2 linked regions of the Homo sapiens genome follow. The protein of the gene in region 2 interacts with the protein of the main gene of each other region in a pairwise test. Each region holds a gene or a part of one and is shown on either strand. Other genes may lie near its edges. The genes, in order: LITAF and BASP1.

Region 1 (9,165 bases), on a different chromosome or scaffold from region 2:
GACAGGCTCTCACTGGGGAGAAAACTGAGGCCAAATGGTGTGCATATATGAAGCCATGTTTATAAATAGTTCAGTATCCAACAGAAGGGTTCTCGTTAGCAACTGGGAAGTCAGTTGTCCCAGAGAAAACATTTTCACGGGTAACACTGTGGTCAGCAAAGAATCCATCATATGCTTAAGTCTGGCTTCAAGAGATGCAGTAGCTGAATGATTTTGTTAAGCCACAAACCAACACTTCTTAGAAGGCCACCTCGCCTAGATGGACATAACAGAATATAAGATATACAGTCACTTTTGGTTTCAGATTGGTAAAATTCCTCTTTGCGGTCCAAGTAGGTAGGTATAAAGCCCTTTCATTAATTGAATGTGAACCAGTGTTTGCAAGAGACTCTCAAGTCCCCACCAAACAGTGGCAGAACAAAAGAGCCTTTTAATTTGATATGTAAGTCCATACTTCGAACAGTAAAATGGAATGTCCAATGAACACTTCACACTCCAGGCATCTGACATGAAAGTTCCGCATAAGACATGTTTTTACGATCCTGAAATAGGGCTCTTGTTTTGAAGACTTTGCATATGTAATTAATAATAGCTTGAGATCATGTACATGCCACCATCTGAGCCAAACTGCTAAATATGCATGGCCCCGAAACTACACAATCAAGATCTGGAAAGCAGCAGTTTTTCAAGACTGTAATTTAGGGTTTAAATGACAATTAAGCCACACCAAGATGACATTATTTCCTTGCATCTAGCAAAATGAAGCTGTATCATCAGGTAGCAAAGGACGGGGGAAGGCGGCATCCATATTCCTGACATGTTACAATACCCTCCTTTTAGCATCTCACAAAGCATGTTTTGTTCAGAGAATGAATGGGGACAGTTCTCTTTTGTGCATTTTATTAAAACTTGAAAGCTATGGCTTGCCGCCATCAATGACGCCTATTGGGTTCCAATAGCCTCATGTTCAAATCTGACTCGTTAGCAAATCCACCCAACTCAACATCGGTCATCTTGACATTGCAGGATATTCAGCAAGTCTGAAGTTTTTAATCGGGAAGGATTTTCTACCGTTACTGAACAAATAAAGGTTCTTTGTAGCAATGGCTGGAAATGCAACATGAGCCCTTTCTTCACACCAAAAGAACTCATAAATAGTTCACCGGGTGAACCAAAGACTTTATTTTTCAAAAGCAGGTAACACCAAAGTACTATGTGGTATCCATATTCGTTGCAAAAATGATAATTACTGGAATTTTCCAAACATCAAATGAAGGGGGATCAATGGTTACCACTATCGTTTTCAACCAATATACAGATGTTCGCTCAAGGTCTAGGTTTTATTTCTACATAGTAGTATTCACATGAGTTCCCTATTCTGAAGTATTATCAAAACGAGGACCCTTGAAGGTCGAGCCCAGCTTTGTCTTGACTTCAAAGATGACACAGCAGCCAACCTAGAATCCTGGCTTGCTGCTTGAGTCCTAGAAATCATGTCTTCTCATGTTTTACAACAAGCTGTGTCTCTGAAAACTAAAATCAGACTTTAGATTCCTCTGAAACAGTTCTGGTTCCCAAGCATCCGCACCATGGTACCCAGACATGCTCAAAATGTGCTTTCCCTTATCTTTCAAAACCCACCACCAGGAAACCAAAACGGACCCCACTCTGAGAGTTCCATGATGAAGGTGTTTAAGAATCACATTAACCCCAAGTAAAGGCAGTAGATGAAATTATCCATTTCTTTTTCTTTTTTTTTTTTTTAAGTGAGACTACATTGGCAAATGGGAAAATGACACCAATCATTTGATTACAGAAAATGGTTTTATAAATCCTCCTCTTGAAATTATGTTCAGGCCCAGCATGGTAGCTTATGCCTGCAATCCCAGCACTTCGGGAGGCCAAGGCAGAAGGATCGCTTGAGCCCAGGAGTTCGACACCAGCCTGGGCAACATAGTAAGACCCCATCTCTGTTTTTTTTTAAAAAAAAGAAATTCTGTTCAAAAGTATTTCAGACCAAAAGGAGGTCATAAAAACTGTTCATATAATTACTCTATGAGAAAAAAATCCCTGTATGGAAAGGGGCACTGAAGATCTGGCACAGAGAAACAAGGGGAGACAGGGCAGTGATAAGATCCAGCCCTATTTTTCTAGCATGCATTTACGACCTTGTGGATATGTCTGTACTGGGTGTTAATAGCCCCCTCCTTGTATTTAAAAAAAAAATTAAGAAATTAAAGTGAATCTGTGTGCTAATGAAGTCTGCAGTTACAGAATCTCAAAGCCAAGCCTGTAAAGTCTGTAAGGCAAGATCTTTGTCATCAGGGACGGGAAGAGACGGATAAGATAATGGTAGGCACTAAAGGCTGGTTCAGCCGAGCTCTGGGCAGAACAGCCTCAAAAATAAGGCAACTGTGGCTTCTCAGTTTGAGACTGCCACCAGAAAGGCCCATGGAAGCAGGAAAAAAGAGCCACTGATGGCAGATCACAGGAAGATATTCGGATAGGGCAATGATCACAGTTAGATGGCAGGACTCAGGGTCTCAGGGAGGCAGGAAACCGTGGAACTGACACTCAAGGGGAATGTCTTTGCAAGTCCTATGCACGACTCCAAGCAGCAATTTCTGGGGTTTGGAGATTTGTTAGTTTTGCGACGTATTCCCCCCAAAAGAAGACATGAAGGTGGGCCCCCTGGAGAGGTGAGACCACCAGGGCAGAACCTCCACCAGGCGTGAAGCTGGATGAGAGGTGGAAAGGACTTCCTGCGGCACCCGGCTCCCTCCACGTCTGGCTGAGTCCTACAAACGCTTGTAGGTGCCCAGGAGAGCTCTGCAGTTGGGACAGTAATGGTCCACGTCCTGCAGGGCATCCACGCAGAAGGGGATGAAGCAGCAGCCCGCTATGCACCTGGGAGGAGAGAGAGACACACGGAGCGCGTTACTGATCACAACAGGGTGAACACTGGCTGCCAAAACCATGTTCATGTCCTTCTTTGTAAAAAGGGTCTTTGCCAGTATAATTAGGAATTTTGAGATGGGATCATCTTGGATTATCCAGGCGGACCCCTAAAACCCAATGACCTTAGAAGAAGAGGAGAGGACACACAGAGATACAGAGAGGGCAGAAGGAAATGTGAAGACAGAGGCAGAAGCTGGAGTGATGAGGCCATAAGCCAAGGACACCTGGACCTACTAGAAGCTGGAGGAGGCAAAAAATGATTCTCCCTGAAGCCTTAGGAGGGAGCGTGGCCCTGCTGACATTTTAGTTTTTGGTTTTGTTTTGTTTTGTTTTTGAGATGGAGTCTCGCTCTGTCGCCCAGGGTTCAAGCAATTCTCCCTCCTCCTGGGTTCAAGCAATTCTCCTGCCTCAGCCTCCTGAGTAGCTGGGATTGCAGGCGCATGCCACCAGGCCCAGCTAATTTTTTTATTATTAGGAGAGTTGGGGTTTCACCGTGTTGGCCAGGCTGGTCTCAAACTCCTGACCTCAAGTGATCCACCCGCCTTGGCCTCCCCAAGTGCTGGGATTACAGGCGAGAGCCACCACACCCGGCCCCTGCTGACATTTTGATTTTGCACTTCTGGCCTCTAGAATTGTGAGAGTTAATATCTGTTGTTTTAAACACTAGGTGTGTTGTAATTTGTGATGACACCCCTAGGAAATTAACATGCCAGCCAATGCCAAGGCTCCTCCTACAGACAGAGCCCCTTTGAGTATTATTTTCAAATCTGGGGTCATTTGGGAGTCTTTCAAAGTCTTAGATGGGCTTGGTGAACTTTTTTTGCAAAGGGACAGATAGTAGATCTTTTAGTCTTTTTGTTGCTGTGTTTTGTTTGTTTTTGTAGAGATGGGGTCTTGCTATGTTGCACAGGCTGGTCTTGAACTGCTGGCCTCAAGTGATCCTTCCACCTCCGCCTCCCAAATTGCTGGGATTACAGGTGGAAGCCACCACACACCCGGCCACATACTTTCATCCTGATGAGCCATGGCGTCTCTGTTGCAACTGCTCAACTCTGCCCTTGGAATGAGAAGACAGCCACAGAGAATCCAAAAACCAACAGGCGTGGCTGTGTTCCCGTAAAACTTAAAACAGGCGCCTGGCTCCAGGGTCGTTTTGCCAACCCCCGTCTTACTGATCTCTTTTCCATATAGACAGGCTGCTTCTTACAGCAACCAAGTAGAGTTCCCCAAATAATGCCTCTTAACCTACATAATCCACCTTTGGCACACACAGGCAGGAACCTCAGACCGCCTGACAACCAATGTTTGCCAAAAATGGAGTTAAAACTCAACCCTTCACAGGAAGACGCTGGTTTACATAAAGCAGAATTTGGAAATATTCTGATGAGGAAATTATCTCATGAAAGAAATTTCCTCCTATTGCCTAAGCTTTCCAGAGCTCAAATAAGGGCAGTCAATCCATTCAGCAGGAATCCTAACCTATGGCTTACAGGTGCAGGCACGGCTCCAGGCAGCACACACACATATTTCATCCTCAGCAGGCCCTGAGGTGGGCGTTATTGCCCCGCACCCCCGTCTACAGATGGGGAAACTGAAGCACAGAGAGGTAAAGTCACTTGCCCATGGCCACACAGCTAGTGAGAGGCAGGATTTGAACCCACTCTACCATGTTTAAGGAAGGAACAAAGGGAGGGAAAGAAAGGTTGCCTCAATTTCTAAAGCCAGACTGGCAGAGGCCAATACTCAATGTAAGTTTCTATTCCTCTATAATCCCAGCACTTTGGGAGGTCAAGGCAGAAGGACTGCTTGAGTCCAGGAGTTCAAGACCAGCCTGGGCAACATAGTAAAACCCCTGCTTCCACACACACAAAAAAAAAATTTAAAAATTAGCTAGGTATGGTGGCACACACCTGTGGTCCCAGGTACTCAGGAGGCTGAGCTGGGCGGATTGCAGGAGCCCAGGAGATCAAAGCTGCGGAGAGCTACGATCGTACCACTGCACTCCTGCCTGGACAACAGAGCAAGACTCAGCCTCAAACAAAACAAAACAAGTTTCTATTCCATCTTTCCCTGATTCCAAAGATAAAAAATTTGTTTTAATACAAATATCCAGAGGCAATGGACTTTTTTTTTTTTTAAGCATTTTCTGCCCACAGAATGAAAACAACAGCAGAGTCCTGTGGGCAAGAGGGGGAATCAGGTGCCCAGAAAGCTGTTTTGTCTCCTTCCTTCCTTATTTAACACATGACCTCAAGGAAGTTAACTAAACTCTCTGGGACTCTGAGCCTCTTATTGAAGTTAGGAAGAGAAATATTGTTCCTTCTCAACCTCAAGTCACCAAAGGACAATGTGGAGGAACGTGCCGGTTGCATGAGGCTCCTGAAACTCACAAACACCGTTTCCTTCAAGGAAAAGAATGGAGCCCCTTGGGGTTTTCTGAGTGGCTCACGTGGCCAGGTATAAGGAAGCTACTTTTACCTGCTTGGTGGGAAACAAAAAATTGATTGTGTTTCCTCAGATTTTTCTCCCAGAACAGAAACTGTTATCTCTTTAAACATAATACCTTTGGTGCAGACATAAAATTTATATAATTTCCCTGCATGGGCAATGGGAAAAATACTTCGGGTCATAAAAGGATAAGAAGTTTTGAAGCAATTCCTATGAAGAATTTTAATGTACAGATTCTTTAAAGCTTCCCTCGGGCTCGAGCAAAACATTATTATTTAGGTCATGAAATTCTAGAAGAAAAAGGAATCCCTGAGGATATTGCCCTGTACACAGCTGGAAGCAGCTGTGAAGCTTGTCCCTACATGCAGGGCGTGGTTTCAGCAGATAAGCAAGAAGAAAAGACGGAAGACCAATTTCTGGGGACGGATACGCTTAAGAGCAGCAGGGATGACTTGGCCTCCCAGGGGGCATTTTTGTTCAGAACACTGGGGAGCGTGGTGCTCCTAGCATTAAGCGGGTGGGGGCCAGGGATGCTATTCAATATCCTACAATGCACAGGACACCCCCTACAATAAAGAAATGTCTTGGGCCAGGCATGATGGCCCACACCTGTAATCCCAGCACTTTGGGAGGCTGAGGCGGGTGGACCACCTGAGGTCAGGAGTTCGAGACCAGCCTGGCCAACATGGTGAGACCCTATCTCTACTAAAAGTACAAAATATTAGCCGGGCCTGACGGTGCACACCTGTAATCCCAGCTACTCAGGAGGCTGAGGCAGGAGAATAGCTTGAACCTGGGAGGCGGAGGTTGCAGTGAGCCGGGATCGTGCTACTGCACTCCAGCCTGGGCAACAGAGTGAGAATCCATCACAAAAAAAGAAAGAAATGCCTTAGGCCAGGCACAGTGGCTCACACCTGTAACCCCAGCAGTTTGGGAGGCCAAGGTGGGCAGATCACCTGAGGTCAGGAGTTTGAGACCAGCCTGGCCAAGATGGTGAAATGCCAGCTCTACTAAAAATAAGCTGGGCGTGGTTGTGCACCCCTATAATCCCAGCTACACGGGACGCTAAGGCAGGAGAATCGTTTGAACCTGAGCAGTGGGGGTTACAGTGAGCCGAGATCGCCCCACTGTACTCCAGCCTGGGCGACAGAACCAGATTCCATCTCAAAAAAAAACAACACAAATGTCTGGCCCTGAATGTCAAGCATGGTGCAGTTGAGAACCCACCCCCGCCAGCACCCAGAGAGAAGGGCAGGATGGCTTGGGGCCAAGTGGGAGGCAGACTCACCCCAGCAGGCACAGGCTCCCGCAGGACAGCCAGGTCAGAGCACCGGCGTTATAGGACAGCTGACTCACGATCATCTTGTTGCAGGAAGGACAACACATTTGGATAGGGCGGTCCAAAAAGGTGATGGGGTGCTGCACGTAGACCGTCTGCACGGTAACTGATGAAAGGGAGAGGGACAAACACAGGTTGCTCAGGAAACAAGGCCAATAGCATTCACTACAGGACAAAGAGAGGAACGCAGGGATGCCAGCAAATATTATATTTGTACATTTGTGTTCATAGCATGCGTTCATCGTCTGGCTATCTATGAGAGCCAAAAGGGGAAGGAACACCAGTGTCCATCGACGGACCAATAAACTAACACAGCGAAGTTTATCCATCCACCAGAATATGATTCAGCCTCAAAAAGAAAGGAGGACCGGGCGCGGTAGCTCATGCCTGTAATCCCAACACTTTGGGAGGCCGAGGTGGGAGGACTGCTTGAGCCTAGGAGTTTGAGATCAGCCTAGGCAACATGACAAGACCTCATCTCTACAAAAAAATATAAAAATTAGCCCAGCGTGGGAGTACACGCCTGTAGTCCCAGCTACTCAGGAGGCTGAGGTGGGAGGATCAGTTGAGTCTGAGAGATTGAGGATGCAGTGAATCATGATTGCGCCACTGCTCTCCAGCCTGGACAACAGAGCGACGCTCAGTCCCAAAAACAAATAAATAAATTTTAACCAGCCTCACACTGTGCCTAGCAGCTCTTGATAAATAATCCACTCTCTTTACACAAACCCTTTGATAAACTCTGACAGCCAATGATAAGGGTAGAGTTTACCAAGCCAGGAAACGCAGGCCAACTCTGTAAGACAACAAGCTAGTGAACTGTGTTGATACAAGAAATGAAAATATAAAATAATGCTAGGAAGAAAAAGCTATGTGAAAACATGTTCGAACATTCTCAAGAATCAGAAGAGAATCCAGGCCGGGCACGGTGGCTCACACCTGTAATCCCAGCAAATCCCTTGGCTTTGGGAGGCCGAGGTGCGTGGATCACCAGAGGTCAGGAGTTCAAGACCAGCCTGGCCAACATGGTGAAACCCTGTTTCTAAAGACAAAAATTAGCCGGGCATGATGGCACGTGCCTGTAGTCCCAGCTACTTGGGAGGCTGAGGCAGGAGAATTGCTTGAACTTGGGAGGCAGAGGTTGCAGTGAGCCGAGATTATGCCACTGCACTCCAGCCTGGGCAACAGAACAAGACTCTACCTCAAAAAAAAAAAAAAAAAAAAAAAGAGAGAACCCAGGGTGATGAAAATCATCAAGCACTTCAGTTGTTAAGCTCATATTTTTGTTAAAGCAACTTCCTTCTGTTCCTTTTTACGTTAGAATGTCATTTATATAACAAATGAATTAGGGGGAAATTACTGCCTAGAGTTAACTGAACTTAGTAATACTCATAGAAAGACCCTCCTTCCAGAAAAGTAGTATTAAATCATACTTTAGCACTTACGTGTAATTTTTTTTTGGCAGGGGGGACAAGGTCTTGTTGTGTTGCCCAGGCTGGAGTGCAGGGGTACAATCATAGCTCACTGCAGCCTCAACCTCCTGGGCTTAAGCAATCCTCCCACCTCAGCCTCCCAAGTAGCTGGGACTACAGGTACAAGCCATCACACTCAGCTAATTTTATTTTCATAGAGACAATGTCTCACTATGTCACTCAGGCTGGTTTGGAACTCCTGGCCTCAGGTGATCCTCCTGCCTCAGCCTCCTCAGTAGCTAGGATTACAGGCGCAAGCCACCACACCCTGTTCATACATTTTATTAAGTGTTTTTGGGGTTCAAGAATAAGTTATTTGGACCAGGCTCTGTGACTCATGCTGATAATTCTAACACTTTGGGAGGCCAAGGGAGGTGGGAAGATCGTTTGAGCTCAGGAGTTAAAGATCAGCCTGGAAAAACAGTGAGACCCGATTTACACAAAAATTTAAAAATTAGCCAGGTGTGGTGCTGTATGCCTGTAGTCTCAGCTATTCCAGAGACTGAAGTGGGAGGATCACTTGAGCCCAGGAGGTCCAGGCTATAGCGAGCCATGACTGCACCACTGCACTCCAACCTGGGCAACATGGTGAGACCCTGTCTCAAAAAAAAAAAAAAAGAAAAAGAAAAAGAAACTATTTATTGATCACAGGATGGTCTAAGAATCTAAAGTCATTATCTCATCCTCTTCCAGCTCAAAATAACTTGAACACAACAATAAGAGTTCACTTTTATCAAACGAGTACTCTGTATTTGGCACACACAACTTCCTCTCATGTTAACAACTCACTGATATTTATAAATAGGTACTTGATGAAACCTATTTTACAAATGGGGAAGCTGAGGCACAAGGAGGTTATGTGAACCCAGGCAGTCTGATTCACGGGCCCCCTCTCTGAGCTAAAGATTTCTTTCAGAACTACCTGTGATACTAAAGCAGTGACATACC
Region 2 (9,070 bases):
TGAGTACCAGTTAAAGAACAGAAATGCCACTGTCATTGTTGGTGCTTTTTATCAAAAGGCTCAATTTCTCTATCTGCTAAAGCTTGGCAAAAAGCTAGCTGGCTAAAAGAATAAGCGAACTGATAGAAATATTTTAATTCTGTAATAATTTTTAAAAATCGATTTAAATATTATCTCACTCAAAAACCTAAGATTTACTGAATTGGGGACATGCTGGTATATATTTGCTATTGAATTTGTTCTATATTCCAACATACCCCTCGCCAAAAACACAACCTAAAGGAAAAGAAAAAAGAAAGAACGTAGCTCTCTAAATCATAATAACCTACTCAATACTAAGGAGTACAGAGGGTACAATCCATGCCACCTAGAAGACAGCTAGACAGCCACCGTAGCCAGTAGATGGGCCCTGATATATTAAACGTGGTCAATATCAAGTTCTCATCAAAAAGGACAAAAGAGATGATTTCCATTGCTGCCACGCGTTATTCCACCAGGATGTACTGACAGTACTTAAGCATAAAACCCTATTAAACATAACCTACCACTGCAAAAAATATCATATTTGGCTCCTATTTAATATACACAATAAGTCCCTTTTTGTGTGGTAAAAACAAACTACCTGAAAATAAATCTAAATGGCCATAACCTGGAAAATAGATCATCTGAAAGAAAATCAGCCATCAAAGGTATATCATGGCTTCTGTTAGGTAATGGGGAAAAAGGAATCATTGCGAACCTAATCAACCAGCTTCACCCCAACGACTGCCTTCTTTCTGCCCCCATCAGATTTCCATCTGGACGCCATTCGCCTTTTGGAATCCTTAATGAAACAATGAGTTCGGAGTCCAGAGAAAACAGAAAGGGTTAGGATCCCGACAAGGTAATCGTTTTCTTCTCTCCGGTTTTTGTAGGCCATCTTGTTCGAATAAACGCCAAGATGTCTTAATTTTCCCCAGGTGGTGTCACTGGAGGCAACGCCCACTGACAGTTTTGAGGCCACCTTCCCTTAATCAAATGACCAAAAAAGATCTGTCAAACGGTTAATTGATGCAAATTAAGAAAGCCACCCTCACTGCAGTAAGATATGTTACAGGAAAAAGAACAATGAACAGTACTAGAAAGGAAAATAACAGTGTGCGGGTACAAAATATTTAATCCACAATTTGCCTTCATCCTCATCAAGGCAAATCTTAATTTTGGTCAATTGAAATCAGCAAGAAAGCAAAAGATGAGAGACAGCCTGGAAAAGAAGAAACACACACACAGGCGGGAAAAACTGTCATTGGTGTCCAAGGGTTTCCCGCAACATTTAGGGCAAACGCCTTTGTTCCTCGGCTCGGGAGGGGAGTGGGTGGCTGGATGATGGAGATGGGATGGGGCTGCCGGGCCCTCCACACCCTGCTCTCCGGCGCATGCGCGAGGCCAAGACAAAGGAATAGGTAATTACAGTCCCGATTCATTCATTTTGCCTGCAGTATACTGGGGGTCTGTTGGCCCGGGCTGTAATCCCGGGAGGTGGGGGTGGGGGGTCGGTCCACAACCCTATAGCAGAAGGCCATTTCGACGCTAGTGTTGGGTTTTAGCCCGCCCCACAGTGCGAGTGGCCGCGGGGGAGACAGAGGTGTTGTCAACCTGTACAAGGTCCTAAAAAATGCACCCATGTGTGCTGTGCTAATTTCAGCAGAGTGAGAATTACATGGGCAAGGGCTGTCCACCGAGTTCGTTTCAAGGCGGAAATGTCTCTGGGGACGCAGATAAGGAGCCTGGCCAAGCGTTCGATGAATATTCATGAAAAGAATGCGGTTTGCAGCCGCGCATTGTGCGTGCGATCGGATCCAGGATTCCGCAATTTTTATTTTTCTGGAAATGGAGGGGGGACGGGGGCGGGGGGAGCAGGAACCGGGCGCCGGGTTTCAGCTTTAGCGCTTTGGGCAAAAGCTGCTCAACCCCAACCCTACGCTCCCAGCGGGGCTGAGCCCAGTTAGGGCCGCGCGCTGTCAGGTTCAAGCCCACACCCCCCGGGCCCGGGCCGGGGCCGGGACCCAGGGCGGAGGCGCCTGGCGCATTCTTGGAACCAAAGGCTCGAAAAAACAAACTGCTCCGAGGCAGCCCACGGGTTCGTAGGAAGGCAATTCCGCCACTGACGAGGCTGGGGCTCCGATCTGCTCGGGAGGTGCTTCTGAGTGCACGTCGCCGTGTGAACCTCGTATTCCTTGGCCCCAGAACCAAGATCCAGGAGTCCCATGGGTCGAGAAAACCCGTTTGCCAAAGCAAAAAGCCACCCACTTCCTTCTGATCGGGCCAGATTCCCCATCTTCTTTCTCCCCGGACTCCCGCCCCACCCCACCCCCACCCTCCATCTTTGGCTGCTGCGCCCCTCGCCCCGAGCGCTTTCTCCCAGGCTGGTAAGGGCTCCGATGACGGAAGCGCTCCCTTCAGCCCACAGAACCGTCTCCCCGGGACTCAACGCACTGAGGGGGTTTCGCATTCGGCAATTCCTCCCGTCACCCGCAGCTCCTCTCCCCGACAGCCCCCTCCCCCCAGCTCCGTTTACCAACCTCGCCGCCCCCCTCACCCCTCCACCATGCGAGCGGCTGAAGCCTCCCACTTCTGGGCCCCCCATCACCCGGGATCCCCGAAGTGCGACGGAGCCCTCACAGAGGGACCCCAGGCCCTTGCCGTCCAATCCGGGCCCACATCCCTGCTGCCCGCTGCATGAAGGGAGAGCCCGGGGGCTGCGGGGCGGGGCGCGGCGCGGTGGGGGACGGAGGCCCCCGGGTCCGCGGCGGCGCGGGGCCACCGGGCGCGCCTCCTTACCGGCTCTGGGTGCCTATGCAGCCCCTGAGTTAGCGCGGTGCCGCCGAGAGGCCGGGGTCGCTGGCGTCGTCTGGCTGGTGCCTGGCCGCTGGCGGAGGCTCTCTCCCGGCTCGACGGCGGAGCCCGGAGCGAGGAGCCAGTTGGAGCGCTGCCGCCGCCGTCGTCGCCGCTGCCGCTACTGCCGCCGCCGCCGCCGCTGCAGCCTCTGCATTTCTCGCGCTCGCTCCCCCTCCCCTTCCTGCCCAGTGCCCTCCCCCCGCGCGTCCGCCCGCCCAGCCTCCCTCCTCCCGCGCTCCCCGCCCGCCTCTCTCCCCTCCCTCCAGCCCGGCGCCCCGCCCGTCTCCCCTCCACCCCCTCCAGCTCCATCTCCCCACCCCCTGCACTCCCTCTGCTCCCCTCCCCTCCTCCGGCGCAGACCCTCCCCTCTCCCCTCCAGCCTGGACACGCCCGCCTCCCCTTGACTCCCCCCAGCTCTGGGCCCCCACCTCCCCTCCCCTCCAGCACAGTCACCCCCATTTCTCTCCTATCCGCCATCCTGGTTCCTCCCTTCCCCCCACCTCCCAACTCTGTGCCCCGCCAACGTTTCCTAAATGCCCTCTATTCAGATCCCCCCTCCGCCTCCCCTCTCCTCTCCTCCATTCCTGCGTCCCCCTTCCCCCGCCGCGCCGCCTGGGCTGTCCGTGGACTTCTCCCACTCTCTCACTCTCTCACTCACTCTCTCTCTCTCTCTCTCTCTCTCACTCTCTCTCTCTCTCTCCCCCTCATTTATTTGGAACCGTTGGATAAGAAGTGCTCGGGCTCTCGCTCAGACTTAGGGAGCTGCCTCGAGGTGATGAATGACACCCCCTGGCACCAGCTACCCTTCTCAGACCCCAGTCCAGCCCGCTCCCGACGTCGACTACGATTCCGCTACCTCGGCTGGCAGCGAGGTTGGGGTGAGCCCCAGCTGCAGGCGCGTCTGGGCTGCGCCGCTGCAAACGAGTTGCGCACCTTGGGCGGCTCCGCACCTGCACCCGCACCCGCGGGGCTCAGCCCCGAAGGCTGCAGCTTCGGGGGAGGCGCGGTCGCCGAGGTCCAGCTGGTGGGGCGAGAGACGTCGCCCCTCGGAGGATGCTCTCGGAACTTGGGAGAGGAAGGAGGGAAGAGAAGAGGGGAAAGGGGCCGTCGATGTTTTTGATGTCTGTGCTTTAATGGAGGCCACCAATATTGAGAAGACGGGGTTGGCCGAGGCAGCCCGCACGCTGCTGCTTGCGAGCGCTCGAGTCAAAGCTAGGGCCAACCGCGGCTTGTCCGGGTGCCCTAAGGGGGCGGACACTTGGTTTAGCACCGGGACACAGAATAGCCACCGGGGTAGGAAGATGCGTTCACTTTGCTTACCTGTTGGCAAGAGGGACATACAAAAATAACGTAACGTGACATCGTTGACAACGGTAGCTCTTTGATTACACAAAAGCCAATTTTACCTTCCCGCAAAAGCCAGTTGACGCCTTTGGAACTTTTATTTGCGGCATTTTGGCGCCCTCTGGCTGTGTTTGGATCGCTTTCATGCTCGCCTGCGTCCCAGCCAAGAAAAAATCGATGGAGCTGCAGGTTGTCCTCAGGATGGTTCTGCCCTCAGGACCTGGGCGTGAATTCAGGGACAGGGTGGCCCTCCAGAACCGGAGTGACAAACTGTAACCATACTTAGGGAGGCAGACGTCAAAGGCAAGTACATCTGTATTCAACTGGGTAAAGGTAAGTGCATTTTCACTTAACAGGAAAATTAACTTATCGTAACTTTAACGTACATATTTGAATTAAGCAAAGTGGCAATATTTACTCAACTGCACTAGCGATTTTGCAGTGGAAACACTTGACGACCCTACTGTACACATTTACAGGTCATAGGAGGCAGCACCAAATTAGATTAATGCATGCCAGCTGGAAATGTTCAAATTTAAACCAAAGGTAAGAAAAAAGCGGGAACTGTTTGTTTTTTCCTGTTTCTCTTTCTGCCATTTAAAGTGAAATAAAAAGTTAGTGTAGTAAAATACCAGGGAAGCAAATTACAAATGAGGTTGCTTCTAAAGCATTTTATTCTTTTGAATATTTATTTCCCTCACACCAGTACACCATCTATAAAGCTAAATGGAGGATGCAGGTTTTCCCACCTCCTTTTGGGGCCAGATATTTCTTTGTTGTGGAAGGCTGTCCTATGCACTGTAGGATGTCTGGCATTCATTGCTGGCCTCTACTAGCAGCCAGTACCACCCTCCACACACACCACCAGCACCAGCACCAGTTGTGACAACCAAAAATGTCCCCAGATATCGCCAAATGTCTCCTGGGAGGCAAAATCACTCCAGGCTGAAAACCACTGAGCTACATTTTCTTTCAACCTCTATGAGCAAGTCTCTAGGTTTTTACCCTATCGAATTAGATGAATATTTGCAATGTTCTGCTCAAGACATTTCCTGAGTTTGTTAGAGGAGCTGCCTACTTGTTCATTTAGCATTCAGGGTTTTTATCCTTGTGATCTTCCAGGCATGTAAATCATCTAAAAATTAGCAAATACATTTCCTCATTGTATTTGCAGTCTAAGCCTGTGGGTGTTATCTTCCTTCTCTATTCTCTTTTTCCAATTTTTCCAAAAAAAAAAGACAACATAAAAATTAATGTTCAGTACCTTCAGTGCTTCCAGCTAAATTTTCATGATGGAGAAAACAAACCTTTCAAAGGTGTGATTGGAATACAGATCACGGGTTACCATAGAAACCGGAGGCAAAAGCTTACACCAACAAGGAGAACTGCAGGTCTCCTTAATTTTGTCTTCCATCAGATTTAGTTGTTCTCTTAAAACATTTTTTTAAATTTTTTTAAAGGAGGGTGAGAATTCATTTTCAATGAGATAATGATGCAACTGACTGATAGTGCTATTAATCTTTAGAAGCTTTTACAGAATTTGTAGGTTTGCAGCAAATGGTTGCCAAAATGTTACCTCTCAATGTAACAATATTACTATATAAAATCCAATTTGGCGATGTTTTTAGTCTAATTTTTAGTTGTTCATCTAATATCATACTTTTTAATGTGTATGCTCTTTAAAACATTTTTTTAAACTGATGCTTAGGGAATAAATGAATAAACCTTTAAAGTTCTGAATTTTAGAAAACTGTTAACATTAACTATTGTGAATGTGTCTGTTTACATTATAGACTAATGATCTTGAGAACAAATATTAAGGGTGTAATTTATGATAAATTTAATTAGCTTTCACCATTATGCTCATGAAAAAAAGACTGTTTTACTCTCCAAATGGAATGAATGCATTTGTTTTTGACAAACAAAGCTGGATTTCATCGGTTATAAACTGAATTCCATTGTCATTTTTAATTGCCTGCATAACTTGCTCCAGGGAAGCATAACCTGCATTATGAAAATCATTATCCAAAAGATAAATTATTCGTGATTACTAATTTTTTTCTAAAAGATTTGTCTTTGCTTGCAATATAATGGTCTCATTGTCATTTAAATTACTAGTCAGTTTACAAAAATTTCCATGTGCCTTCAGCTTTTCAAATCATATCTATTGTGTCAACTAAGACACCTACAATAGATAATTATACAGACCTCATCAAGCCTCAAAACCTCACTCTTATCTTCCCTCTCCCCACCTCCCACATCACCCACCAAGGCCTAGCGTCTTTCTCAGTTCCCCATCCTTTCCTCTTAAATAGTAAAAAGAGGATTAAAATCTCAAATAAAAGATGTAGAACAAGAATGAAGCAGAAGCATGGTGACAGTAGTGTCACCCGAGTGTGACTCTAGCCACCTTTGCTTGACATCTTTCTGGATAGTTCCTGTTCAAGGCCACTGCATTAACCCAAACCCTCAGAAACCCATTTAGAGAATTTGAAAGTAAATTCAGCTCTACTGGTAAGTTTTCCGTGGAGGACCAACTTGCTGCAATTTGTTTACAAAATCTTATCTGCAAATTGCAAGCAAAAGGCCAGACAGTATTACAGATGAAAGTGTACGGCTTTTTTTCTCTTAAATATATTTATAATTTTTTAACCAAAGGAAAATATTGAAATCTATATATTCGTCTGTCTTCCTTCCTACCCCAACCCTACCCAACCCCACGAGAGTCATTCTGGGCCAAAATGTCAATAATGGCAAGGTTGAGAAACCCAGGTTTAAATGAGCATCAAGTTGCTGCCCAGTTGGAAAATACCTGATCTTTTTTTTTTTTTTTTTTCTAAGAGCGCATGCTGCAGAGGGAAGCTGCCTCTTCCTGTGGCTTAAGGTATCTTCAGCAGGGCAAAAGGCTTGGAGGCACAAAATTTAATGGAGAAATTTTAACAAGGGCCTGCAATGCACAATGTGCGCTAAGCCCTTCATTAACCACCATTCTCCACTATAACACAAATTGAGGCAATAGTTTCAAGAGGTATGTCAAAGATTAAAAGCAATGATTTTGAATTGCATTCCCTGTTACTGCACACCAAGTAACTGGAAGAAAATGACTTAACCTTGCTTCCCTATTTAATTTCCTCTTCATGTACTGTAAAAGGAGAGCTGGGAAACCTGAGCAAACATTTGTTTACTACGAAGCATCGGAGTTGAAATGGAGGGGACAGCCTGGCCTTGGTGCTACATTAGGAACATTTGCCCAAGATGAGAGGCAGATAAAAACAAGCCTGTCTACCTGAATAGCTCTCATTCCCAACCCCGTTCTCCCTTTCATAGACTGTAATTCTGCCACCTATCCTTTCAGTCCCAAAGTACATTTCTAGTCACCAGCATTTTCTTTTTTTTTTTTTTTTTTTTTTTTTGGACACAGAGTCTCACTCTGTTGCCGAGGCTGGAGTGCAGTGGTGCGATCTTGGCTCACTGCAACCTCCCAGGTTCAAGAGATTCTCATGCCTCAGCCTCCCAAGTAGCTGGGACTACAGGCGCATGCTACCATACCCAGCTAATTTTTTTTTTTTTTAAGTAGAGATGGGGTTTCACCGTGTTAGCCAGGATGGTCTCGACCTCCTGACCTCGTGATCCGCCCGCCTCGGCCTCCCAAAGTGCTGGGATTACAGGCGTGAGCCACCGCGCCCGGCCCAGCATTTTCTATTAAGAAAATACATAAAATTGTCAGAGGCATTTAAACCCTTGCAACTCCATCTTGAATAGGGGCTGGGCAAAGTAAGGCTGAGACCTACTGGGCTGCGTTCCCAGGAGATTAAGCATTCCAAGTCACAGGATAAGATACAGCAAGGTCTTGGAGACCTTGCTGATAAAACAGGTTGTGGTATAGAAGCTGGCCAAAGCCCACCAAAACCAAGATGACAACGAAAGTGACCTCTGATTGTCCTCATTGCTCCCACCAGTGCCATGACCGTTTACAAATGCCATGGCAACATCAGGAAGTTACCCTATATGGTCAAAAAAGGGGAAAAACCCTCAGTTCTGGGACTTGCCCACATTTTTCCCAGAAAAGTCATGAATAATCCACCTCTTGTTTTAAAAATATGATCAAAAAATAACTATAAGTATCCTCAGCCAAGTAGCCCATGCCGCTGCTCTGCCTACGGAGTACTCATCTTTATTTCTTTACTTTCTTAATAAACTTGCTTTCAATGTACTATATGGACTCACCCTGAATTCTTTCTTGCATGAGATCCAAGAATCCTCCCTTGGGGTCTGGATTGGGACCCTTTCCTGTAACAAACCAATGGTAAAAAGGTGATAGCCTCCTAAGCAGCGAGGGCTTTTTCCATGCAGTGCCTACCTGTTCCTACAGACACCAGGGAGGGGATTATGGCATAGCAAGCTCAGTCTTGGGAAAACAGTCCTCGATTCCTTGGCTACCCTTCCCCCATTGTCACCCGTTAAACCAGTCAGAGAACAAGTTACCTTAAAATGGCACAAAGAATGTTGTAGAACAATTAATCACATGGCTCCACCTTTGAATAATGGAGACTGTAGAGGTCCTAGTGTTAAATAGTGTGTGCTGCGTCCACTCCTCAGCACCACCTGCTTCTACTCTCAGATCAGCCCTTACCATAATTAGAATATTTCTACTTTAACTTCAGTGCAAGGAATGGTGCCCGAAATAAATTGGTAAGTGCAAAAGCAAATTGCTAACCAGAATGCAAAGGATGCACATTTTTACTATAAGTAAATACATTAAGGGATGCTGCTTTGCCTACTTCTCTAAAGTGCAAATACGGACCAAATTCCAGTGTCTACCTAACTCTGCTTTTTGATAAACTCCCTA

The links.
Region 1: the proteins of BASP1 (region 2) and LITAF interact in binary tests that used the Homo sapiens proteins (3 or more experiments, as listed by UniProt).

What each region holds. Positions count from the first base shown.
Region 1 is NC_000016.10:11,546,839-11,556,003, forward strand, and holds the end of LITAF (lipopolysaccharide-induced tumor necrosis factor-alpha factor), read right to left. Parts: intron 6,852-9,165; coding exon 6,695-6,851; intron 4,967-6,694; coding exon of another isoform or gene 4,885-4,966; exon of another isoform or gene 4,869-4,884; intron 2,908-4,868; coding exon 2,799-2,907; 3' UTR 884-2,798; downstream 1-883.
Region 2 is NC_000005.10:17,211,561-17,220,630, reverse strand, and holds the start of BASP1 (brain acid soluble protein 1), read right to left. Parts: upstream 3,001-9,070; 5' UTR 2,821-3,000; intron 1-2,820.